2 linked regions of the Homo sapiens genome follow. The protein of the gene in region 1 purifies or fractionates together with the protein of each later gene. This does not show direct contact. Each region holds a gene or a part of one and is shown on either strand. Other genes may lie near its edges.

Region 1 (3,754 bases):
ACCAAGAAGGAGATGGCAGTGACAGAAGAAAGGAGAGGGGGAAATAATGGGCACTAAGAAAGCAGAAAGAGACATATTTGGAGGGAGATGGCTACCGAAATCTGGGCTTTTCTTAGATCCTCTCCAAGGAAAGTTATCACTGGAAATACCCAAGGCCCTGATTGTATGCACTGTGCTAGGGAGAAAGACATTCAGATGCTGAAATAAAAAACTAGGGAATTAGTAAAAATTGGATCTCTAAGACAAATAAATTGATCAAACTATAATAATAATCAAACTTCTAATAATGTATAACCTCTCCAGAGATGAACTCCAAGAACAGCTCAATGGTTTGTTGAAAAAAAAAAAGAGACCCCTGGTTTATGCACTTTCTCCCCAAGGGAGACATGGGGTTGATCCATCGGGTCTTCTTCAATTGCACAGTTGGCAGGCTGGCCATTCCCATGGAGGGTCATTCTCCTTTTAAAGAATGGTTAGGTAACCTTCAGCAGCCATAGGGCACTTTAGACATAAAGAGACAAAGCCATCACTGACCCAGCCCAGCCACGAGAATTCCTGAGTTGGAAGAACCAGGGTGTTCACCTCCCACTCAACAGAGAATTCCCTTTAAGGACAGAGCGCTCTCTCATGTGTGGTGGCCCTTGCCTCTGTTGGGCGGCTTTGATGGCTAGAAGGTGTTCCTTTAACTTGAGCTAAAACAGCCTTTCTCTCTTCCACTCATTGATCTTAGCCTGCCCTCCAGCATGAAAAGAAAACCTCTTCAAATGACTGGCTTGCTTGGAAAGATCTGAGAGCAGCCACATACAGGAACAACTCTCCTCGTGACAAGCAGCAAAACAAGTGGTGAGTGGAAAAGAGCAGGCCCTGAACAGCACCAGTCAATATGCTTGGCCTCTCTGGTCTCTTTTCACTTTGTCGGTTTGGGAGCCTGGGCCTCTGCCAGGATGCTTATCTGTAGGAGTTCCAAGAGAATCAGGAGATGGGGATGCTTTTGGGAAATGATGCCTGGGGCTCCCTAGAAGAGAAGCTGGAAAGCTACCCACAGAAAGGCCAAATAGAATTTCTGAAAGCCCCAGGTTAGTGGAAGCCTAAAGAGCATGTCAGGCCAGGTTGCCATACTGCTTCCAAAAGCTGCAAACCATCATCACAGTGGCAGATTTGTCAGCTAAAAGAGCAAATGGGGGAAACACTTTGCTAAGAATCCAGGCTTGCTCTAAAAGGGAAATATGCTCAGGACCATAAGACAAATTTTCTGTAAGTTTAACATTTGTTTAGCTTGCCATTTTTTCTTAATGGGTAAAACATACATATATTCCTCTTAACTGTTTTCAGAGGGTCCACCTTTCAATATGCACTGCATCCTTCCAGGCCTGCGGCCTCTGGAACTGGATAGTTGGGGAAAGTGAATTGGAAGAGATGGGGAAGGGTCCACAGCTCCTTGTCGCAGGCCAACTGCATTAATGCAGAGCTTGGTGCTCAAGTCTGGGGGTGGGCCATATGGACTGTGAGTCATGGGGGAGGGGAGGAATTTGTGGCCACAGAGGGAAATTCATAAACAAAACCAGAAAGACCAGAAAGAGACTTTTTCTAATACAGCAGTGTTTCGGCTGGGACAGGTTGGCCGGACTCTCCAGGAACGTGGTGAAGAGCGTGGGGGAGGCGGCTGAGGCAGGGCAGAGCCCAGGCTGCAGAGCTGTGTGCTTCACAAGTTGGCTCTGTGGTCGGGAAGGCTCCACGGCCATAAGGACCCTGGCCTTTGATTTCCTGGGAGGAACAGCACTTGGAACGGAGTAAGAATTTCAGGCAATCACCTGGTTTCCCCAATGGCTTTCTTGTCTCACGGACAGTTTAACAAAGCTGGCAGAGTCCTGTAACTAGGATCTGTAACTTTGGGGGTAAGGGCAAGTAGGAACAGACATCCAAAACAACTGAGTGCTGGGATAAAGGCTTGACCGGAAAGATTTCAGGGGCCTGGGCTTTGTTTGCATTCTGGGAAACTTCTCAGTCTCTTGGTCAGAAATGAAGCAGCACCTTTCACATCTAAGTACAGGCCCCAGGCTGGATACTGGTAGATGACTGGGGCGGGGACTCAGCTCTTCCACTGGATGGGTGAATATACCTGGCAGGTCAATTACTTAAGTTGAGCCTCAGTTTCCCTGTCAGTAAAATGGGGATAATGAGTCACCCCCTGCCTCCCATTCTGGGATGTTGTGAGCTGCTAAGGAGCTAGTATCTGTGAGTACACCTGCTAAATAAAGCACAATATTCATGTGAGCTATCTGTGTCATAGGGCAGGAAAACAGTCTAATGTCTTTGAGAATGAAAACAGGCACATCTGGGCTGAGGTCACAGAGGGATGCACGCGTGTCAGCAAGGCTTAGTGGGGCGCTGGGTTGGGGGCGCTGCCTCCTTGGACTCTCCAGGGTGCTAAGTTTAGAAAGACCAGTAGCACCAGGGACGGGGCAGTGCTCAGTCAGTGGCCCATCTGCTGACTTGAAGGTGCCAGATGGGAGCAGGGCTGAGAGCTCCATGTACTTCCCACTGCTTGACTTTCAAAGGGCACCATTAGCAGATGCCAGGTCCAAGGAGGGGATCATCAGTACATGGTGATGCTTAAAGGACTGACTGTGGCTTTCAAACATCTTGTGTAAAAAGCCCCTGGGTACCACGGGGTGCATTCACCGGAGGCAGGGGTGGTGACTAAGTTGGTTGGCAGCGCCTGGGCCAGGGGGCCCGTGGTGGAGCAGCAGCCAGCCAGGCGCACTGCTGAAGCCCCCGGGAAGGCAGTGATGCTGCCCTACTGATGGGGGTGCAGGAGTGTTATCTGCTCCCCAGGAAGCCCGTCTGCCTGTTGGCCACACGGGTGCAGGAGGCACAGCAGGCGGTCTTGTAGTAGTTGTAGACACAGAGTCTTGCCTGGACCACCACGTTGCAGTTGTAGTACTTGTCCTTGCAGTTTTCATCTGTAGCGAAAGAGAATGAACAGAAGACTCCCTGAGCACAAGAGGCAGCCTGGACCAGTGGGAAGAGAAAGGGCAGTGGCTGTGGCTTTAACTCCTGCGCTGCTGTTTATTACCATTGTGGGGTATGAATGTGTGCCAAGGGCTCACAGGTTTTTCTCTTTCTTTTAAACACGATAAGGGAAATAGGTATAGAGAATAAGTTACTCATCTGTGTCCTCACTTCTCTCTGATCACTTCCTCCTTCATCCTCATCACTCCAGAGGTAATCAGAAGTTCCAAATTTGGCGTTTCTTATCCCCAAACATTTCTTTACACTTAAACTCTATGTGAGGGAATCCCTCACCACTCTGTGACATTTAAACATAAAAGATACATACTGTATAAGCTCCTTGGCAACTTGCTCGACATTGAATTTGTGCGATTCATTCATATTTGATGAATGCTATATTTTCATTATTGAATTTTCTTGTGTATATAATCCACAATTTAATCATTTTCTATTGATGGACATTTAAGTTGGACATTAATCCAATTTTTTTTTTCTAGTGCAAACAATGCTTTTAAGTAGTTTTGTTACCATCCTCTGCCTGGGCCTTGCTGGGTCATAAGGTATATCCAACTTTGCTAGATACAGTCAGTTTGCTCTCCAAAGTCGGTATAACTGTTTATGTTCCTGTCAGTGAAACAGAAGAATTCTCTTTTTGCCATATGTTTTAGTTTTTGCTGAGCTAGTGAATGTGAAATGATTCCCACGTGAGGCTGAACATATCATGTATATTTGCCATTCAAGC
Region 2 (3,754 bases), on another chromosome or scaffold:
AGTGGTAATGTAGCCCTTGGTTATGTTAGAAAGCCTTTATTTTTTATGATTTTGTAGGACACTGGTTATATTATTCTTGCTTGGAAGTTTTGTGTTCAGCAATTAGACTATCTCATCCAATTCCCTTCTTGCTTCAGGTTGTACTTTTTTTGAGACAGGGATTTATTCTGTCACTCAGGCTGGAAGTGCAGTGGTGTGATCGTGGCTCACTGCGGCCTCCACTTCCCAGGTTCAGGTGATTCTCCCACTCCAGCCTTCTGAGTAGTTGGGACTACAAGTGTGCAACAGCATACACAGCTAATTTTTTTGTATTTTCTGTAGAGATGGGATTTCACCATGCTACTCAGGCTTGTCTTGAACTCCTGGGCTCAAGCGATCTGCCTGCCTCAGCCTCCCAAAGTGCTGGGATTACAGGTGTGAACCACCGTGCCCAGCCAGGCCTCAATGTTTCTGTGGACAAATTCACTGGTAATCTCCTAAGAGCATGTACCTTGCTTTTCACTTGCTGCTTTCAGGATTCTTTTCTCCTTTGACTTTGGAAACTGTGGTTATAATGTGTCTTATGTCCCTTTTTGTTTATACTAGTTGATGTGTTGAGCTTCTTGATTTTTTTGTATTTTTTTCTTACTTTTGAGAATTTCTCAGTAATTATTTCCTTTCATACCTCAGTTTCTCAGTCTGTTTTTCATACTTCATGTCTTTTTATTGGTATCCTTATTTTCCTAATTTTACTTAGTTTGCTGTTTTGCCATTTTTACTCATTGAGCATTATTCAAATGGTAATTTTATTTTCTTCAGTTAATTTATGCATCTCCATCATTTTAGGGTTGATTTCTGAACTTTTTTTATTTCTTTGATTATGCCATGTGACCCTAATACTTTGTACATGTCATCTTTGACTGAGATTCAGGCATTAACAACAAGCCTCCTGCCACAACCTTTATAATGTGCCTTTCTCCTGGGGTCATCTAAAACAAATAGGCCCAGATTCTAGAGGCCTCTTAAGCCTGTTCTGGGATGTGTCTTGTGTGGAATTGTGTGTGTATTTTTCATTTAAAGAGGGTTTCTCAGCTTTCTTTGTAGTGCCCTGGAATCACACAATACACTTGTCGCCTGGTGCTGCTGCTGCAGCCTTCCTACCGCTGTCATGGGTATTTCCTTTCGGTCTCAGCAGACCCAGCCTGTCACTCAGAGTACCACCATTTCTCTCAGCACTCCGTGTCACAGGGGGCAGAAACCAATCTTTGCCAAAGCTTCAAAAGGCCAAAAGTAAAAACACTTGTGCCAGTATTTGCTTTCTCTTTTGAAGGAGAAGCCAAGAGCTGAGGGTGTACTCTTAAAGGCATGATGCTATACTGCGGAGGAGCGGGGGCTGCAGTGGGTAAACGTAACAGACTGTTTTTCTTCTTATCTGGCTCCTAGCACTGTGCTCACCTGGGGTGCTGCAAACTGTGAAATGGTTTTTAGAGTTCAGATGCATCTTCTCACTAGGTATTGTTACATTTATATGTTTATACAGAAATTAGGGCCTGTGGTATTTTTTATGCCATTTTGCTAATGTACCCAGTATTATTTTATAGATTAGATTCATAAAGTGTATTCATCTGTGTCTAGTAAGTCGGATAACTTTTTTTTTTTTTTTCAGCTATGTCTTCTCATTTTACCCAAGACCTTCTGCCAGAGCAGGGCATACAAGATGCATTCCCAAAAAGAATACTGAGAGGATATGGAAATTGTGGCCTTGATAATTTATATTTAAGGAAAGACTGGGAAAGTTTAGATGAGTGTAAGTTGCAAAAAGATTATAATGGACTTAACCAATGTTCATCAACTACCCATAGCAAAATCTTTCAATATAATAAATATGTTAAAATCTTTGATAACTTTTCAAATTTACATAGACGTAATATAAGTAATACTGGAGAGAAACCTTTCAAATGTCAAGAATGTGGCAAATCCTTTCAAATGCTCTCATTCCTAACTGAACATCAGAAAATTCACACTGGAAAAAAATTCCAAAAATGTGGAGAATGTGGCAAAACCTTTATCCAGTGCTCACACTTTACTGAACCTGAGAACATTGACACTGGAGAGAAACCTTACAAGTGTCAAGAATGTAACAACGTCATTAAAACTTGCTCAGTCCTTACTAAAAATAGAATTTATGCCGGAGGGGAACATTACAGATGTGAAGAATTTGGCAAAGTATTTAACCAGTGCTCCCACCTTACTGAACATGAGCATGGTACTGAGGAAAAACCCTGCAAATATGAAGAGTGCAGCAGTGTCTTTATCTCTTGCTCAAGCCTTTCTAATCAACAGATGATTCTTGCTGGAGAGAAGCTCTCCAAATGTGAAACATGGTACAAAGGTTTTAACCACAGCCCAAATCCTTCCAAACACCAGAGAAATGAGATTGGAGGGAAACCTTTCAAATGTGAGGAATGTGACAGCATCTTCAAGTGGTTCTCAGACCTTACTAAACATAAGAGAATTCACACTGGTGAGAAACCATACAAATGTGACGAATGTGGGAAAGCCTATACACAGTCCTCACACCTCAGTGAACACAGGAGGATTCACACCGGAGAGAAACCCTACCAATGTGAAGAATGTGGGAAGGTCTTCAGAACTTGCTCAAGCCTTTCTAACCATAAGAGAACTCATTCTGAAGAAAAACCCTACACGTGTGAAGAATGTGGCAACATCTTTAAGCAGTTATCAGACCTCACTAAGCATAAGAAAACCCATACTGGAGAGAAGCCCTACAAATGTGACGAATGTGGAAAAAACTTTACCCAGTCCTCCAACCTTATTGTACATAAGAGAATTCATACTGGAGAGAAACCCTACAAGTGTGAAGAATGTGGCAGAGTCTTCATGTGGTTCTCAGACATTACCAAACATAAGAAAACCCATACTGGAGAGAAACCCTACAAATGTGACGAATGTGGAAAAAACTTTACCCAGTCCTCAAACCTTATTGTACATAAGAGAATTCATACTGGAGAGAAACCCTACAAGTGTGAAAAGTGTGGCAAAGCCTTCACCCAGTTCTCACACCTGACTGTACATGAAAGCATTCATACTTGAGAAAAAAATAAACAAATATAAAAATAGGCAAAGCCGTTAGTATCTGCTCGCATCCCACTTTACATCAGAGTTCAGACTTAATAAAGTTATCATAAATGTAATTACTATTGAAAGACCTTTCATGAAATATAAGTCTCCAGAGCACACAAGAGTATTTCTTCTGAAAAAAATGTTACAATTATACTAGATGGAAGACTTGCATCAGTTGCTTAAACTTTCAGAAAATTTGTAGAGAAACCCAACAAATCTCATAAATGTGGAATAACATTTGTTCAAAAATGATAGCTTAGAAAACACTAGAGTTCATACTAAAAGATATTTTGCAAATACACTAAATGGGAAAAATAAGCAAGGACACGTTCAGAAATGACACTGAATCCCTGTGTTGAGTCTACAGAGACATCTAGACTTAAAATAGATCATTTATATTTAAGTTTAAAAGGAGGATGAGACTGAGTTTTTGTAGAGTTATAATTACATTCAAAATATACTTTTTTGCATTGAAAAAATGTTAAATTTTTGAAAAGCGAATATTGATGTCATTCTATTCTCAAATCAGTAGATGCTGTGTCTTCATTTCTAGTGCTGATGTGAAAACACATGGTCAGTTGTTGCTGCGTCAGAGATATGAGAAATTCTTTTCTCTTAGGTGTGCATCACT

The links.
Region 2: the proteins of THSD4 (region 1) and ZNF195 purify together in Homo sapiens (affinity purification with mass spectrometry; 2 studies listed by BioGRID and IntAct, with this or other methods). This does not show direct contact.

Annotation. Positions count from the first base shown.
Region 1 is NC_000015.10:71,776,441-71,780,194, reverse strand, and holds part of THSD4 (thrombospondin type-1 domain-containing protein 4 isoform 1 precursor), read right to left. Parts: intron 2,964-3,754; coding exon 2,821-2,963; 3' UTR 1-2,820. UniProt on the Homo sapiens protein: Promotes FBN1 matrix assembly.
Region 2 is NC_000011.10:3,358,457-3,362,210, reverse strand, and holds part of ZNF195 (zinc finger protein 195), read left to right. Parts: intron 1-321; coding exon 322-468; intron 469-1,422; coding exon 1,423-1,491; intron 1,492-1,645; coding exon 1,646-3,093; 3' UTR 3,094-3,754. UniProt on the Homo sapiens protein: May be involved in transcriptional regulation.